Linked DNA regions of Homo sapiens. The protein of the gene in region 2 purifies or fractionates together with the protein of the main gene of each other region. This does not show direct contact. Each region holds a gene or a part of one and is shown on either strand. Other genes may lie near its edges.

Region 1 (7,032 bases), on a different chromosome or scaffold from region 2:
AAGTATGAAATAAAGTTTAGAAGCCATAAAATAAAGAATTGATACATTTGACTCCTAAAAATTGGAGATTTCTGCATGACCTAAAAAAAAAAGCATAAAGGCAAAAGACATGGCAAACTAGGAAAAAGCGTTTCTAGAATATGTGACAAATAATACAGTAATATCAGTAATATATAAACACTTCCTAAAACCCACACGGAAAAGATGACAGTCTTGTAGAAAAACAGTGTTAGGACATGAGCAGATGGTTCATAGGAAAGGAAATACAAATAGATATATAACATGAAAAACATATAAGTTTTCTCATAGTATTTAATTAATACATTTTTAACCCTTAGATTGGCAATTTTTTTTTAATTTGATTAACTCTGAGTTTGTGAGAGTATAAGGGTCAGATGCTCATATCTTATTAATAGGTAATCAAATTGATCAACCTCTTGTAGGCGATTTGCCATATCTGTTAAACTTACACATGCACACAATCGTTGAGCTCGTAGTTGTACATGTAGGAATTTATGTTATAGATATCATTATACATGGATGCAGATAAGTGTGCTTATTTTTTAGCTGCATTGCTCATTAAAGCAAAAGATTCAAAAGAAGTGAAATGTCTAAGAACTGCTTAATTTATGGTACACGTGTAATAGAATAAACACCTTGTAGCCATTAAAAAGAACTAGGCAGCTCTAGAGGTAATGTACTGATAGATGTCCAAAATTAAGTGAAAGTATTGGGGAACATTAAATGTAGGTGACATAAATGTGCCTATGTGTAGAATCAGCTCTCTCTGGAAGCACAGAGCGTACTTGGCCTGGGGAGGGCAGGGGCTCCCGGCGGCTGGGCCAGACGAGGCCGGCTCACTTCTCACTCTCCTGTTGTGTCTTGACATGTGTTCCATGTACATGTGTCACCTACTTTTTAAAAAACCATTAAAAAAAGTGTGTTTTAAGCACATCACTGAAAATAGGCAGATGTAAACGTATTATTTTGCAGATCCAACTGTTTGCCTAAATCAAGTGATGCCTTACCCATATTTGAATGTTTTCCATAAAAAGTGGTTTTTGCATTGATAAGAAAATGAATAGTACTTGCTTCATCAGCGCATATGCCAAAGTTGGAACCATACAGAGAGAATTAGGATGGCTCTTCTGCAAAAATGACATGCAAATTTGTGAAATGTTAAAAAAAATAACAAACATGGGCCGGGCGTGGTGGCCTACACCTGTAATCCCAGCACTTTGGCAGGCCGAGGCAGGTGAATCACCTGAGGTCAGAGGTTGAGACCAGCCTGGCCAACATGGTGAAACCCCATCTGTACTAAAAATACAAAAATTAGCTGGGCGTGGTGGGGTGCGTCTCTAATCCCAGCTACTCAGGAGGCTGAGGCAGGAGAATCGCTTGAACCTGGGAGGCGGAGGTTGAAGTGAGCCGAGATTGCACCACCGCATTCCAGCCTGGGCGACAGAGCGAGACTCCATCTCAAAAAAAGAAAAAAAAATAATGTGTGTATGTGTATATATATGTATACATATATATACATGATGCTTCCAGAGATGTGTGACCACATAAAAATGATTTTGAAAAATATGCACTGCAATGTAATGTCAGGTAGAGTAAAAAGACTACAAAGTGCTTTCAGTATAATTCCATTTTAGTAAATTTATAAATATACATGTAGAAGAAACGGAAAGAAGATTAAAAGTGGTTAGCTCTGAACACCTATAGGTTTTTGTCTATAATCTTCAAATATGTAACATACAAAGAACATTCTACTTTTGTAAGCAGAATACAAAATAATGGCTTTTAAAATTGAAATGAAAAATTCTCTGGCCACCAGTGAACACTCACTGAGCCTCCACACACCATGTGGTGCTTCTGAGTTGGGCTGCCTCTGGATTAAACATGCCACATGCCCTGGTGGTAGGAGCAGCTGTAACAACCCTGAGTTGCCAGGCTGTGCAAGGTAGGGGATGTTAGGGAAGGTTGGCAACTCGGAAGCAAGGCGGTGTGTTAACCATTACAGAAGCATCAGGCTGGAGTTCAGGGACCTGGATTCCACTCCTCACTTGAAGCTCAGTGACCTTCAACAAATGCATTCATCAGTTCCTTCCAGCCATCCGTGATTGTGACTTTCTAAAATAAATTTTCCTCTTTTCTGCATTATAAAAGTATACGTTTACTATGAAAAATTTAGCTAAGCAAAAGTTATGAAATAATTATATCACCCTGAAATAACCTTTGCTATTTTGATGTGAATTTATCTAGTTTTTTCCCTTAAGTACATATGTTTGGGTGTGTAGTTTTATGATTATGAGGTCACATCATAGGCATTTGTTTTACATACATATTGTTTTGGTAACTGTTTTTCTGGCACTTACTCCTAGGTCCTAAATACAAGCATTTACGGAATTTTGTGCCATGTGACTGTGTAGTCTTACTGACATCTTAACAGACTACACCATTGTGATTGATGAGTTTTGTGTCATTTGCTACATAGGATCAAGACTTCAAATCCCAAAAGAACTTCATCATTAACATGACTTGCAGATTTTGCTGGCAGCTTCCTGAAACAGATTACGAGTGTACCAACTCCACCAGCTGCATGACGGTGTCCTGTCCTCGGCAGCGCTACCCTGCCAACTGCACGGTGCGGGACCACGTCCACTGCTTGGGTAGGTCAGAGTTCAAGGACATTTGTCAACAAAATGTTTTTCTCCAAGTTTATTGAAGGGACTTTAACCAGAAATTTGCGAGTCAAGTTACTTAATTAGAAACATTTATCAGCAGCTCTTTAGATGTGCCAAGCATCATCAATAAACTCAACGTACTAAAGTAAAGCATCCAGAAAATTGCAGTTCTTTTTAAATGTAATATTTGATAAAATAAGAAAAACATTTGAAGTATAAAGCATAATACACAGTAATTGACCTTTACCCAAAATAACAATGAAAGCAGCACCAATACCATTGCGGCCGCCTGAGTGCCTGAGTGCTTGCCTTCACCTGGTTGCCTTTCCTCCTCTTCCAAGGTAACCACCCTTTTGAATTTTTTATTTCACTTCCTTTTAAATTTTTTCTGTAGTTTTATTGTCTATATGTAATAAAATAATATTCAATAATGCATGTTTTAGAACCGTGTAAAATGATTTCAGGCTGTGTGCTCTTCTGGGACTTGCTTATTTCCTAAACATTGTGGCTCTAGGATTCATCCACGTGACTTCTCTTCTTTTTTTTACTTCTGTGTAATAATCTATTGTAAGATTGTATCACAGTTTATTCTCCAATATATTTGGTTAAGTGCTGTTTTCCGCTGTTGTGACTGTTCAAATTTCTTTGCCTGTCTCCCAATGGCACAGGTGCAAGAGCTTCTTCAGCATGTACTTTCCAGCGTGTGTCATTCTTTAAATGGCTGTATTGACTGGCATTCCCACCCGCGCTATGTAACTGTTCCTGATGAGCCATATTCTCTCCAAGAGTGGTTATTCTTAAATTTGGTCTTAAAGTTGTCTAGACTTCTTTTATATTTTGGATATTACCTGTGCTGTCCCTGAAACCCTCTCCCAGATTTTGATTTTTTTTTTTTTTGCATTATTGTATATTTTCATGAACAGAACTTTAAAAATATAATTACTGGAAGTTATTAGAGTTAGTCCTTTTTTGTGGTGGTTTTAAGAAATCTTTTTCTACCCCAGGTTAATAAAGACAATTTGCTACATTTTCTTTTGAAAGTTGTAAGTATAACATTTCACATTTAGGTTTAGAATCCACCTGGAATTGGTCCTGGTAGATGGTGTGAGGTAGATTCTACTTTAATTGTCCCCCCACATGGATGGCCAGTTGTCTCAACTCTTCCCTGTTGATCCGTGTGTGACCTCTGTCATAACACTCATACATGAAGTGTTTGTATATTTCTGGTTCTTGACTTTCTCTTCTTTTCCTATTGGGTGATTTTTATGCCTCAAGACTACACTGTCTTATATACTCGTAACTTCCCCGTAGGTCTTGATATGTGGGTGAGCATTTCATGTTCCTCACGTTGTAATCCTAACTTAGCTGATTTAAATATTACATCTATGTAGATAGATGGTAAGCGCTTTGTACTCTTCACTTCAACATGTATTACCGTAAAGAGAGTTGACTTTTCACATTTTAAATTTTGAGCCCATTTGTTACAATTAAGTCTTTCTGAGAGTATTTTTTATACCCTGTATTTTTCTTTCTTTTTTTTTTTTAAGGTAACCGTACTTTTCCCAAAATGCTATATTGCAATTGGACTGGAGGCTATAAGTGGTCTACGGCTCTGGCTCTAAGGTAAGCCTTGTTACTCGTAAGTGTAAAAGGCCGTTTGCATTTCTTTGGGATTGGTGGAATCTTCAGACATTGAGCTCAGTCCCCTTCATTCTTCACTCAGATCCTACCACGTGTGTTAGACTCTAGCAAACAGCTGGAAGAGTTTAGATGATCAGACCAGTACCTCCGTGGAGTTGACTGGCAGGCATGTTAGCTTTTCTCCCAAGATGCCTGCACATTACGTTTACCATTCTGAATGTACCACGAATCAGTAAAATGCTGTGGACTATCCAAAATAGGCAGTTTTATGATGTATATCTTTAATTTTAAGTAACTATTATAAAAAGTAATACATGATGAACACTGAAAACTGGAAAAATGAAAATGACAAAAACATTAAAAATTACCTATAATTTCATCAGCAGCAGATAATTATAGGCTTATATTTCTTACATAGAAATGTGCTGTTTGTTAAACTTCTCAACAGTACTTTAAGAAATTATAGCAGTTCTTCCCACCAAAGGGAAGGGCAGGTAAGACCCTGGTTAACTGATTAGTGAAAAGGTTACGCTGCCTACACTTGAAGTTTTGAGTTCGTGCCTGAGACCCTGAGGCCTGCAGCATTGCAGCCATAGGGCAGGATTTCTCAGCCTCATCACTGCTGACGTTCTGGGCTGAATGAGTTTTTGTCTTGGGGCTGTGCTGTGCATAGCAGGGTGTTGAGCAGCATCACTGGCCTCTACCTACTACTTGTCAGTAGCAAACCCCCCATCCCTTGCAGCTGTGACAGTGTGTCTCCAGATGTTGCCAGGTGTCCCCTAGGGGACAAAATTGCCCCTTGCTGAGAACCACTGCATTAGAATTTGAGCTGAGGAAAGAAGGATCTTGCCTGGCAGGAAAAGTGTAACTGAAAAGTAAAAGAGGGTGCCAGGATAGAAAATGAGACTAACAAAAATAAGATAGGGCGGGCGCGATGGCTCACACCTGTAATCCCAGCGCTTTGGGAGGCCGAGGCTGGCGGATTGCTTGAGGTCAGGAGTTCAAGACCAGCCTGGCCAACATGGTGAAACCCCATCTCTACCAAAAATACAAAAGCCTGCCATCGTGGTTCATGTCTGTGGTTCCAGCTGCGTGGTAGGCTGCAATGGGAAGATCACTTGAGCCCAGGAGGAGGAGGCTGCAGTGAGCTGGCATTGCACCACTGCACTCCAGCCTCAGTGACAGAGTGAGATTCTGTCTCAAAAAAAAAGATTAGTAACCATTGCTGACAATGGTTCAAATTAACAACTGGCTTTTTAAAAAAATAAATAAATGTTTGAAACTTGGAATAATTTTAATTTACAGAAAAGTTGCAAAGATAGTAGAGTTCTTATATACCCCTAACCTGGTTTCCCTACATTGTTAACCTCTTACAGTACTATACTGTAACATACTTTCAACAATTAAAACTTCTCAGCACTCAACATGGTTTTTTTTTTTTTTTGCTTTTTTTTTTTTTTTTTTTTTTTAACGGAGTCTCTCTCTGTCACCCAGGCTGGAGTGCAGTGGCTCAATCTCGGCTTACTGCAAGCTCCACCTCCCAGGTTCACGCCATTCTCCTGCCTCAGCCTCCCGAGCAGCTGGGACTACAGGCGCCCGCCACCACGCCTGGCTAATTTTTTGTATTTTTAATAGAGACAGGGTTTCACCGTGTTAGCCAGGATGGTCTGGATCTCCTGACCTTGTGATCCGCCTGCCTCAGCCTCCCAGAGTGCTGGGATGACAGGCGTGAGCCACCGCGCCCGGCAACATGGTTTCTTTTAAAATCATCACTGTAATGAGATGATGCCCAAGGTTTGCTTCAGGGTACTCTGGAGGGGAAAGAGGAGGGTTTTGATGAAACACAGCTGGCCAAGTGTTGATTATTGGAGCTGAGTCATGGGTACTGTTCTCTTTACTTTTTATTGTTAGGTGTTTAGAAATTTTCCATAATATAGTTTCAGTATTATTAGATCTTAGAATTTAAAAGATCCTTAAATCTTTTAAGGATTTATTCCTAACATTAAGATTTTAGAGATGAATGAAAAAATAGACTGAAAACATGGATGACTTGATCCAGGTCGTCCAGGTGGTGGTGAGCTCCTCCTGACTCCAGCCCTGACCCCGTGTTAGTGCACTTCCTGTTAGACTGGGTCTTTGCTTTATTTTGACTAAAAAGCAATGAGATTGATAACTTTAAAAAAAGAAAACATTGGTTTTTTAGTACAGCTAAAAATTGTATGTTTACTTTTGACATTTAAACTGTCTTCCTGCCCGTAATTATTTGGTGGTGTCAGTTTGTGAAATAGTCACTTGTGTTCCAGTTAAGGGCTACGATCAGGGGAAGCCCTTTCTCAAATCTGACATAATGTGGTGATTAAACCGTGACTGGCCACAGCTGGGGTGGAGGTGGTCTCATGGAATCCTGTCTGTTTGCCATCGCAGCATCACCCTCGGTGGGTTTGGAGCAGACCGTTTCTACCTGGGCCAGTGGCGGGAAGGCCTCGGCAAGCTCTTCAGCTTCGGTGGCCTGGGAATATGGACGCTGATAGACGTCCTGCTCATTGGAGTTGGCTATGTTGGACCAGCAGATGGCTCTTTGTACATTTAGCTGTGGTGTGTGCTTCAGAAAGGAGCAGGGCTTAGAAAAAGCCCTTTTGTCCGTAGGAGTTGATGTGGTGTGAGTGATATATTTCTATGTTTTTAATGTACAGCATCTGTACTT
Region 2 (4,593 bases):
TCCAATTTGAGACCAGCATGGGCAACACGGTGAAAGCCCGTCTCTACAAAAAGTACAAAAATTAGCCGGGTGTGGTGGCACGCACCTGTAGTCTCAGCTATTTAGGAGGCTGAGGCGGGAGGATCAATTGAGCCTGGGAGGTCAAGGCTGCAGTGAGCCATAATCACGCCACTGCCCTTGAGCCTGAATGACAGAAGGAAACTGAATGACCCTGTCTCAAAAAAAAAAAAAAGAGTTTGATCATTTATTCACTTCAATAGCCATTTGCGCATCAGCCATATGTCAAGCACTGTATTAGACACTACAGAGACAGATATAAGCCAGAATTCTCACCCTTGAACCTATAGTGCACCTAAGGCAATGGAATAATATAACCAGATAAATGTCTTTCCACAAATAATTTTATAAGAGATATTTAATGACCACCTAATCTTTGTTCAGCATAAATTCTGCTAGGTTTTATGGGGGATAGAAGTCAAAATCATCAAGCAGAAAAGGAAGCAGAAATGTAGGAGGTATTATGGTGAGGTAATGGGCTGCAAATATGGGCAGATCTTATTTCCCAGAGGGCCCGATGTACCAGGTAGTGTTTGAAGTACCTGTCTGTTGTAATTACTGCAAAACTCTGTGTCATTTTGTCTATAACAGATCCCAGTGGCAAGGTGCATCCTGAAATCATCAATGAGAATGGAAACCCCAGCTACAAGTATTTTTATGTCAGTGCCGAGCAAGGTATAGTTATGCTGAAGGGAGGGAGGATTATTGCTAGATTGAACTAGGATGAACCACATGCAAGGTCTGTGATAGGAAAGTAAATTCAGCATGTTAGCTGAGCATCTCCTGCATGTCTATAGCTTTTGGCCAGATCCTGTGTAGGATATAGGAGGAAGATGAGACTGAGCCCCTTCCCTTGGAAGAGCTGACTGACCCACAGGCAGCTGTGAAGAACTGAGGCACACAAGTGACTGAGGTAGTCACTTGCCCATAGTTTCATAGTTAAGTAGCAGAGCCAGAATTTGAGTCCAGAACTTAGTTTTTTTCCTACTGAGCTAATACTGTTTTTCCTATGAAAATTCAGTGGAAGAGGAATAGTGTTAGGTGAACAAGTCTAAGAGGTTTTATAGATATTAAACTTAAATAGGCCGAGCACAGTGGCTCATACCTGTAATCTCAGCACTTTGGGAGGCCGAGGCAGGCAGATCACTTGAGGTCAGGAGTTCAAGACCAGCCTGGCCAACATGGCAAAGCCCCATCTCTACTAAAAATACAAAAAATAGCTGAGCGGGCTGGGCGTGGTGGCTCACGCCTGTAATCCCAGCACTTTGGGAGGCCGAGGCGGGAGGATCATGAGGTCAGGAGATTGAGACCATCCTGGCTAACATGGTGAAACCCCGTCTCTACTAAAAATACAAAAAATTAGCTGGCGTGGTGGCAGGTGCCTGTAGTCCCAGCTACTCGGGAGGCTGAGGCAGGAGAATGGCGTGAACCCGAGAGGCAGAGGTTGCAGTGAGCCAAGATCGTGCGCCATTGCACTCTAGCCTGGGTGACAGAGCGAGACTCTGTCTCAAAAAAAAAAAAAAAAAAAAACCAAAAAAACCCCGAAACGTAAACGGACCTAGAAGGATAAAAATTTCATCTCTGGACAGATATGAGGAGGACATTTCAAGCTATGGAAGTGAAGTGGCGGGGGAATGTAGCCCAACATAGAGTTTGTAAGGCTTGCTAGAAGAAATAATGACTGGATTAAGCCTTAGAGAATAAGACCTTGTCAGTAGCAGAATGGGAAAAGCATGTTCCAGGAGAGAGAAGAGCACCAGCACAAACAAGTGAAGGAAGTTTGCAATCGTCAGCCAGTCATGCTTTTTTGTTCTCTAATCTTTGAGCACAGTCATTCTGGAGGCAGGGGTTGGAATTCATGCCATGTATTGTTGCTGCTTTCCTTCCTTTTCCCCTCATCTATGAAAGGGAGTTGTGTGCTAAGTTGCCATGTGTCCCTATTTGCCATGCTGCCAGGCTGTTGATCACTTTATGATTTGAGTCCTTGATACTCTTATTCTCAGACTAGGGACGGGGAGGAGATCTGTAGAAGCTATTACCTTCTTCCCCTGAGTAAGGAGAATGTCATGTTCCTTAACCAAATGCAGATCACTGGAGATTGGTATCAAAGGGAAATTTTCCACGTGGAGAAGGGCAGCTGGGCTTTAGGTCTCCAATTCTTGTATCTTGAGATTCACCTTCCCTTTAGAATTTCATCCAAGTTACCACTGCTGTCTCCACACTGACATAGTCCAGATGTGAACATGAGACCCTTCCCTGAATCCTCCATCTCTCAGCTGACATGAAACTGGAACATTCAAACCCAGCTTTACTAAAGGCATAGGCAAAACAAAACAGAAATAACAAACTGTATTATCTGCCTCTTATGAGCTTATGGTTTGGCTTTGCAAGATTCATAGACTCTGGCTCAACCCAGCTTCTGGCCTGCCATTATATAGGGGTGCTTTGTAGAACCACCATTCAGGAGCCTATACTGAAATAGCTGTCCCCCTTGAGTCTAAATCCATAAGCAGGATGCCCCAAGACAGACAAGAAGTTTCATCTCGAGTCTACTTAAGGCCCTCCTTCCAGGTTTCTCTCTCTCTTTTTTTTTTTTTTTTTTTTTGGCCTGAGAACTTGGCTTCATCCATGTATAGTTGATACTGGAAATGACGACCCCCTTCAGTAGAGACACCCCCGCCCCAGCACACACACCCCTCAGTGTAATCTGTAACCTCCACAGGAAGTAAAATAAGTGCAACATTCATCCAAAAGATACAATGGGGACGGTAGGAAGGTGTTTCCTCTTCCCTGGGGGTGAAGTGAACATCTACAGTCTAGGACAGGGGATCAGCTCTAATCCTAGAGGGTAAGCCAAAATAACTGCTAAGATTTTGGTATGACTTCGTAGTTGATAAAGCACTTTTATTATCCATTCTCCCATTTAACTTTTATAATACTGTGTGAAGTGAGTTACATTATTTCATTTTATAAATGAGGAAACAAATTCAAAGAGATAAATGACTTGCCAGGGCCAAAATCCAGAGCTAGATCTTGAGTCCAGATCTTGTACTCCTCTCATATTTCTTCTGAAACATTTAAAAGTGTACATTGGTTGTCAAATGTCAAACATTACTTACTTCATACTTTTTTCCTCCAATCTTTATTTCACAGTTGTTCAGGGGATGAAGGAAGCTCAGGAAAGGCTGACGGGTGATGCCTTCAGAAAGAAACATCTTGAAGATGAATTGTAACATGAATGTGCCCCTTCTTTCATCAGAGTTAGTGTTCTGGAAGGAAAGCAGCAGGGAAGGGAATATTGAGGAATCATCTAGAACAATTAAGCCGACCAGGAAACCTCATTCCTACCTACACTGGAAGGAGCGCTCTCACTGTGGAAGAGTTCTGCTAACAGAAGCTGGTCTGCATGTTTGTGGATCCAGCGGAGAGTGGCAGACTTTCTTCTCCTTTTCCCTCTCACCTAAATGTCAACTTGTCATTGAATGTAAAGAATGAAACCTTCTGACACAAAACTTGAGCCACTTGGATGTTTACTCCTCGCACTTAAGTATTTGAGTCTTTTCCCATTTCCTCCCACTTTACTCACCTTAGTGGTGAAAGGAGACTAGTAGCATCTTTTCTACAACGTTAAAATTGCAGAAGTAGCTTATCATTAAAAAACAACAACAACAACAATAACAATAAATCCTAAGTGTAAATCAGTTATTCTACCCCCTACCAAGGATATCAGCCTGTTTTTTCCCTTTTTTCTCCTGGGAATAATTGTGGGCTTCTTCCCAAATTTCTACAGCCTCTTTCCTCTTCTCATGCTTGAGCTTCCCTGTTTGCACGCATGCGTGTGCAGGACTGGCTGTGTGCTTGGACTCGGCTCCAGGTGGAAGCATGCTTTCCCTTGTTACTGTTGGAGAAACTCAAACCTTCAAGCCCTAGGTGTAGCCATTTTGTCAAGTCATCAACTGTATTTTTGTACTGGCATTAACAAAAAAAGAGATAAAATATTGTACCATTAAACTTTAATAAAACTTTAAAAGGAAATGTGCTGTGATGGCCTTTTTGTTATTGGAAAAGGAGGGAGGGATGGAGATCACTTCAGGAAGAAAACTAACCTAGAGGACCTAATCTAGGAGTCCTAACCTAGGACTCCTGCTCCTTCACCTCCCACATTCAAATGAGCACAATGGCTCCTCTCTTTTACTTTTTAAATACCTGAATTTCCTCTGTCCACACTATCACTGTTTTAGCACGGGGCAGGCTTTTTCTCTCTTCGACTATTTATTGCTATAGCCCCTTAACTTGCCTATTGGCTCTAATATTCCCTCCTCCTGCAATCGATCCATATCACTCCCCTGTTTAAAACCTTTCCTGGCTGGACACAGTGGCTCACGCCTGTACTCCCAGCACTTTGGGAGGCCAAGGTGGGCGAATCACCTGAGGTAGGGAGTTCGAGACCAGCCTGGCCAACATGGCGAAACCCCGGCTCTACTAAAAATACAAAATTAGGCCGGGCGCGGTGACTCACGCCTGTAATCCCGGCAC
Region 3 (7,032 bases), on a different chromosome or scaffold from region 2:
GTCCCGGGGAGCCCTACCTGTACGGGAGAGGGCAGCATGCACCGTCCGTGTCCCCCATGTCCCTCCGTGTCCCCCATGTCCCTCCGTGTCCCTCCGTGTCCCCGTGTCCCGGGGAGCCCTACCTGTACGGGAGAGGGCAGCACGCACCCTCCGTGTCCCCCATGTCCCTCTGTGTCCCTCCGTGTCCCTCCGTGTCCCCCATGTCCCTCCGTGTCCCCCGTGTCCCTCCGTGTCCCTCCGTGTCCCTCCGTGTCCCCCATGTCCCCCATGTCCCCGTGTCCCGGGGAGCCCTACCTGTACGGGAGAGGGCAGCATGCACACTCCGTGTCCCCCGTGTCCCTCCGTGTCCCCCATGTCCCCGTGTCCCGGGGAGCCCTACCTGTACGGGAGAGGGCAGCATGCACACTCCGTGTCCCCCGTGTCCCTCCGTGTCCCCCATGTCCCCGTGTCCCGGGGAGCCCTACCTGTACGGGAGAGGGCAGCATGCACACTCCGTGTCCCCCGTGTCCCTCCGTGTCCCCCGTGTCCCCGTGTCCCGGGGAGCCCTACCTGTACGGGAGAGGGCAGCATGCACACTCCGTGTCCCCCATGTCCCTCCGTGTCCCCGTGTCCCTCCGTGTCCCCGTGTCCCGGGGAGCCCTACCTGTATGGGTCGTGGATGATGCCCCTGTAGATCCACTTCTCCAGAACCTCGAAGTAGGGAGCACTGGCCGCCTTGGTTAGGTACAGGCATAGCTCCTGCGCCTGGCTGTCCCCTGTGTAGCTGAAGCTCCTGTCGTGGAGCAGGCTCAGCGTGGACCCCCCAAGACATTCGCCTTTGTCCACCGAGGTGGCTGTGGGGAGAAAGGAGGGCTCACTGCTGAGAAGGAAGCGCACGCCCAGCCTCTGCCAACAACACTGCTGGGGCCCCTCATGCTTCTCCAACCTTCTTCCTGGGACGGTGCTGCTTCTTTGGGATACGTATTAACTGTAAGGTTGTAGTTGCTGATTTCAGCTGACCAGTAAGAGCTTCCAGGGCTTTCCTCTTGCAAGTTAATAGCACATGGAGCAACATGAGCTTTGGCCACACGCCCCTGCCCTGGGCAGCTGCTCCACGGCCCCTGCAGAGTCTCTCCTCACACTGGGTGCCATGTTCAACACCTGCCACCCACCACTGCCCCATGCCCCCCGGGCGGGCACGCACCGAGGGAGGCCAGGATGTCCATGGTGCGCATGGCTGGCTGGATGTAGAACCAGAGCTTCTGCAGCGAAAGGAGGCCCTGCCTGTGCAGCTGCTCCAGCTGTGACACCAGAATCAGGTGCTCCTTCACCAGGGTGCGCATGGCGGCCGCCAGGGCGTGGTTCACCTGCCCGTACTCGAAGGAAGACTTCTCTTCAATGAACCTGGAAGAAAAGCTGTCAGACTTCCTCAAAAAGGCAAGCTGCAGGCACATACAATGTCCGATATTCTGAGTCTCATCCCAAACAGGAAGCAAATGACTCACTTGAACCCCACATCCCAGAGGGGAACTTTTGCCCCAGGAGGAGATGAGTCAGGACCCTGGATGGTGACTCACAGACCCTCCAAAACTGAGTTGGGCACGGAGTTGTCACCAAGGCGGGCGCTCTCTTTAGAAGCGATGCAGACGTCCCCATGGTCATCAGGATGGGACCTAACCCCTCCCCCACAACAGCGCAGGCTCCCAGGGACCGCGCCCGGTGCCCACCTGGTCACAGCGGAGTAGCTGGCGGCCACTGGGAGGATCCTGTGCACCAGCTCCCTGATGGACAGGTCCAGGTTGGGGTCCACGAGGAAGGTCCGGCTCTGCCTCCCAGCCAGGGGCTGAGCACTGACGTACCTCCCGTCCACGCCCACCAGCACGTACAGCAGGTCCTCCACCACGGCCGACTCCTGCGAGGCCAGGGGCAACGTGCCTGCGGGCACAGACAGCGCTGTGGCTCTGCAGCCCCCACTCCCATGCCCCCACAGCCACGTGCCCTCATCTGCGGGTCAGTCTCACTCTTGCTCATCTTTGTTTATGGGTATAAAAGGTCAGCCACTGCACTTGGCTTTGACTGACCCCACTGGGGAGCCACAGGCTGAGTTCCAACCGCCGCAGGACGGGGCCGGCCTGGGAGGCGTGGTGGCTGGTGTCAAGATCTCACCACACTCGGCTCCGCAATGCTCAGATACATGGCTGACATTTGAAAAGGTGAAGTTAGGAGTTGAAAAGGCGACTCCAGCAGAAGCTGCACTTTCAACATTGGTAAGTACAACTTGGTAAGTCTGAGTTACTCTGGGACAAAAAACCTTGTCTTTAAAAAGCTATCACTTAAACGTTAAGAAACTCTTGATAATTTCTATCCAGAGAGGATGAGACGGCTGCAGGACACACAGCTAAGCTTCCTCACGAGGACGGCCACGGGCCGCCACCCACCAAACCCCTCAGGTCCCAGGACCAAGTTCTCAGTCCACAGCCTCAGGCGGGCCATGCCTGGGGGGCCGGGAGGAGCACCAGACGAAAGCAGGATGTTGAAACTGTCCCCACGAGGGCCTGACAGGGCCCCGTGCCAGCCAGACCATACCCAAACCAGGCCCTGGCAGCTCAGGAAGGCTCCGTACAACAGGCTTTCGGTTTACAAAATCACTCTGTCAGCCTCACACATCTGCTGGGAAGTGTCCTGTGACTGCAGGCCTCAAGACTACAATCCGTCACCAACGCAAGCCCTTCAGCGAAAGCCTCAATCCTGATGCAGATCCACACTGTCCTTGTTTTTTTTTTTTCCTTTTTTTATTTTTGAGACAAATCTCACTCTGTCACCCAGTCTGGAGGGCAGTGGTGCAATCTCAGCTCACTGCAGCCTTGAGCACCCAGGCTCAAGCGATCCTGTATCCTTAGTCTCCCTCGGAGCTGGGACCACTGGCACGTGCCACCATTCCTGGCTAATTTTTAAATTTTTTGTAAAGGTGGGGTCTTGCCGTGTTGCCCAGGCTGGCAGATCTACACTTTTCAACTTCAAATTCCATTTCTTTCTATTACTCCAGTGGCCTTCTCAGGATGACCAATAAAACCGAGACCCCAATGTCTACCATCCCTAAAGGAGTGGGTGTGGCTTGGCGTTTTGGGAACAGCGAGTGCATCTTCCAGGAACTGCCTCTGACTCTGCATCACTTACTTTCCACCATGTTGGCCTCATTCATCCACAGCCACGAAGCCTCGGCCAATGCCCTTGTGGGGAGAAGCCTCACGGTGGGGTGGAGGTGCCGTGGGGTGGGGGTTAGTGTGGATCCAGCCGCCTGGCTGTGGAGGGACCTCAAGGGTTGCTTTAGGCCGGGTATGGTGGCTCACACCTGTAATCCCATCACTTTAGGAGGCCAAGGTGGACAGATCGCTTGACTCCAGGAGTTCAAGACCAGCCTGGGCAACACGGCGAATCCCCGTCTCTACTGAAAATACAGAAATTAGCTGCGTGTGATGGTGCACACCTGCAGTCCCAGCTACTCGGGAGGCTGAGGTGGGAGAATCACCTGAGCTTGGGAGGTCGAGGCTGCAGTGAGCTGAGATTGTGCCACTGCACTCCAGCCTAGGCAACGAAGTGAGACCCTGTCTCAAGCAAAAAAAGAGTCAGTTGCTTCACCTCCCCAATATTCAACATCCTCAGTGTCATCTCAACACCTGCGATGTCACCTGCAAATCACCACGTCCGAACGACCACCGAACACGTGGCTCCTCCGTGCCGGTGTGGGGAAAAGGCAGGACGCGGGCAGATAACACCTTCGCATGCTGCGCGGGAGCGACCAGAGGGAGGGGCACTGCGGAGGCGGCGCTGGCCAGGTGGATGCCCACACGGTGAGGAGAGCATGGCGGGAACGTGGAGTGCTGGCAGCTGCCTCGTGCTCACAAGGTCCTGATGCTTTCCAAGGCACCTGTCCTCATCACACCACTCCACAGCTGTTTTCCAGAGGACGCAGGCCCGAGGTCACACAAGGTCCCGTGGTGTGGCACTGGTCAAATCGTGGGGTGAGGAGCTAGACAGGCCCCGGCATGAACACCACAGTGAGCTCCATTCTCAAGTCTGCACAGGTGGCACAAGGGGACAGGGACAGTGCGGACAAAGGGAGGCAAGGCAGCCTCAATACCGGAGGCACCCCTGGGACCTGTGGTATGTGGCCGTGGGAGGGAGGTGGGGCGAGGCCGCCCCTTTCCTGGGATGCTGAGTGTGCTGAGGGCACCTGCACCCTGACCTGAGAGCTGGCTGCAGGGTTCACAGCCAAGTCTCACACACTTGCTGCCAATCACCGCCACGCTCAGAGCTGCCCACGGCGCCGCAGCGTTACTGGACAGTGCGTTCCTCTTTTGTACAACCCCTTCCCTGAATGGGGAAACATGGGGGGAAAGCCTGAACACCCCCTCAGTGCCTCCTGCTCCAAAAAGCCGGCTCCACTGCTGGGATCCCAGGCAGCAGGGCCCCGCGCTTCCTTCTCCGAAGTCTGCCTGGGTACCATCAGGAGCTCTCAGGTGCCCACCACTCCCCGGCTGCCTGCTGAGTACCCGCTAAGGGAGCAGCTCTCTCTCCCTAAGTCTTCACAGTTGGGTTTTCACAGTTGGATTATTACTGAAAACACTGCACAAAGCAGACTGCTTTGTTTTTTTTTTTTTGAAACAGGGTCTCGCTCTGTTGCCCAGGCTGGAGTGCAGTGGCACGATCACAGCTCACTGCAGCCTCGACCTCTCAGGCTCAAGTGATCCTCCCACCTCAGCCTCCTGAGTAGCTGGGACTACAGGTGCACGCTACCACACTCGGCTAATTTTCACATTTTTTGTAGAGACTAGTCTCGTCCTGTCGCCCAGGCTGGTCTCGAATTCCTGGGCTCAAGGAATCCACGCACCTCACCTCCCTAAGTGCTGGGATTACAGGTGTGAGCCACCATGCCTGGCCGAAGTAGACTGTTTTCCATACTTTTCATTAACTTACAGCATGGTTTTCTATACTTCTCATAACTTACAGCAGGGTTTTTCTATACTTTTCATTAACTTACAGCAGGGTTCTGTTTGCTTGGGGATGAGGAAAACAGGTGGATTTCACGTCACCGTTCTCCAGGGTTTCCGGCAAAGGCAAGGGTTGGCCCCTTGGTGCCCACATTGCAGAGCCGTGAGTAGTGGGGAAGCAGACCACGCTCCATGCTGCCTCTTGAGTTTGGACTAACGGGGATGGGGCAAGATAAGCAGGTATGCTCTGTCCTTAGTTTGTGAAATCTCATTTTTCAATCTAAAAATGTACTTGACTAGGCGTGGTGGCTCATGCCTGTAATCCCAGCACTTTGTGAGGCCAAGGTGGGCAGATCACCAGAGGTCAGGAGTTCGAGACCAGTCTGGCCAACACGGCAAAACCCCGTCTCTACTAAAAATATAAAAATTAGCCAGGCGTGGTGGCGCCTGCAGTCCCAGCTACTTGGGAGGCTGAGGCAGGAGAATCGCTTCAACCTGGGAGGTGGAGGTTGCAGTGTGCCGAGATCACGCCACTGCACTTCAGCCTGGGCGACAGAGCGAGATTCCATCTCAAAAGAACTAAAAATAAATAAAAATAAAAATGTACCCATGAATTGTGACAGATGAACACATCCCAGGTCCCCAATAACAACGTCTTGAAATGACTGTGTGGTCTCACCCGCATCTTGTTTACACGAACACTACTTAAGAGGCCTCTGAGAATACTGCTGTAACAGAATCTATGGGAGTCATGAATCGCTGTTCAGAAATAAGTGCTGCACACAATTCTGATGCCTGCAGGTCTGCACCAGGGCACCAGGATGCCGGCTGGGGAGGGGCCTGCTGCAGGCTGCCCCACAGCTCTGGCAGAAGGGACAGGAGAAGAACCCTCAAGGACCCGGGTGAGCCGTTCTCTGCTGCCATCCTGGGATGGGAATATGGAGGCGGCAGCCAGTCAGCATTGAGCCTCACAACCTGAGGAAAGGCAGGCCCGGGGGAGGGCTGGGCCTGCAAAGTGTCCTGCCCAGAGGCCAGAAATAAACACATGACATACCTATCGGCAGAGCCCGGAAATCAACGCATCACGTACCTATCGGCAGAGCCCGGAAATCAACGCATCACGTACCTATCGGCAAAGCGGTGTCTGTGCTGATGCCAGCACCAATCAGGAAATCCCCGATCAGGGCAGGTCTCTCATACACCCATGCTGGGAAGATGGGGAGGTGCTGGCCTGAATTTTTTTTGTTCTGCTTGTCTCGAAGCATCTTTCTTTTAAGTTCCAGAGACTAGCAAGGACATTTTAAAAAACAAAACCAGAAAGATACACTTTAGCGCAAACACTCAACTAAAGACATGCATAGAAGCTAGCATCTACGGCAAAGATGATTACTCAATTCAACACCCACAAAGGGTCAACCACATAGAAATGAAATGCGCCTCGACATCCCTGCCTGCCACAACGTGAGGGGCTGGGGACAACAGGGCAGATGGGGAGCCCTAGCCCCTCTTCTCAGGAGTGCAGGTCCTGCAAGGGCCCCCCTGGGAAAACATGAGCACCAGCAGTGGGAACCACGGGAGAGGGTGCACCTAGGCACAGAGCCGCTGTTTCAAAGGAGGGCGCCCTGTGAACAAGCTGAATTGCTTCTTTCTGGCAGTGACTAGGTCTGAACACCACTTGATGGGTGAAGACAGGCTTCAGCAACAGACATGCATCCTTACCCTGCCGGAGAAGGGCCCCAGCGTGACAGGATGGCTCCTGACATGTGGTCAGAGAGCCTGCCCTCCTGCGCCAGTGGCCGCCAGAGGCTGATGGGGTCGGCCTGGGCTGGCCCAGCTTTCGGAAGCACTGACTCCCACTCAGGGCTGGTCAGGGACACGGGCAGATGCAAACTGTCTCTGCACGTGGCAGTAAGACCCAGTCTTCTGCCACGGCTGAGGGAGACGTGGACAGAGGCCTAGCACCATGTCCAGCACAGAACGTGCCCAGCAAGAACCGGCTGGGTCCTTGGGAGCCGCTGCACTCAACACGCACCCAGGAGGCTAGGACGCCTCAGGGACACAG

What was found. Proteins that work in one complex are often made in the same cells at the same time.
Region 1: the proteins of TXNDC12 (region 2) and TM2D3 purify together in Homo sapiens (co-immunoprecipitation; 3 studies listed by BioGRID and IntAct, with this or other methods). This does not show direct contact.
Region 3: the proteins of TXNDC12 (region 2) and TUBGCP2 purify together in Homo sapiens (affinity purification with mass spectrometry; 2 studies listed by BioGRID and IntAct, with this or other methods). This does not show direct contact.

Annotation. Positions count from the first base shown.
Region 1 is NC_000015.10:101,642,365-101,649,396, reverse strand, and holds part of TM2D3 (TM2 domain-containing protein 3 isoform a precursor), read left to right. Parts: intron 1-2,497; coding exon 2,498-2,672; intron 2,673-4,234; coding exon 4,235-4,310; intron 4,311-6,752; coding exon 6,753-6,918; 3' UTR 6,919-7,032. UniProt on the Homo sapiens protein: Probable positive regulator of Notch signaling.
Region 2 is NC_000001.11:52,019,630-52,024,222, reverse strand, and holds the end of TXNDC12 (thioredoxin domain-containing protein 12 precursor), read left to right. Parts: intron 1-648; coding exon 649-732; intron 733-3,210; coding exon 3,211-3,290; 3' UTR 3,291-4,092; downstream 4,093-4,593. UniProt on the Homo sapiens protein: Protein-disulfide reductase of the endoplasmic reticulum that promotes disulfide bond formation in client proteins through its thiol-disulfide oxidase activity.
Region 3 is NC_000010.11:133,291,856-133,298,887, forward strand, and holds part of TUBGCP2 (gamma-tubulin complex component 2), read right to left. Parts: intron 6,257-7,032; coding exon 6,097-6,256; intron 5,550-6,096; coding exon of another isoform or gene 5,466-5,549; intron 1,915-5,465; coding exon 1,707-1,914; intron 1,384-1,706; coding exon 1,184-1,383; intron 834-1,183; coding exon 644-833; intron 193-643; exon of another isoform or gene 1-192. UniProt on the Homo sapiens protein: Component of the gamma-tubulin ring complex (gTuRC) which mediates microtubule nucleation.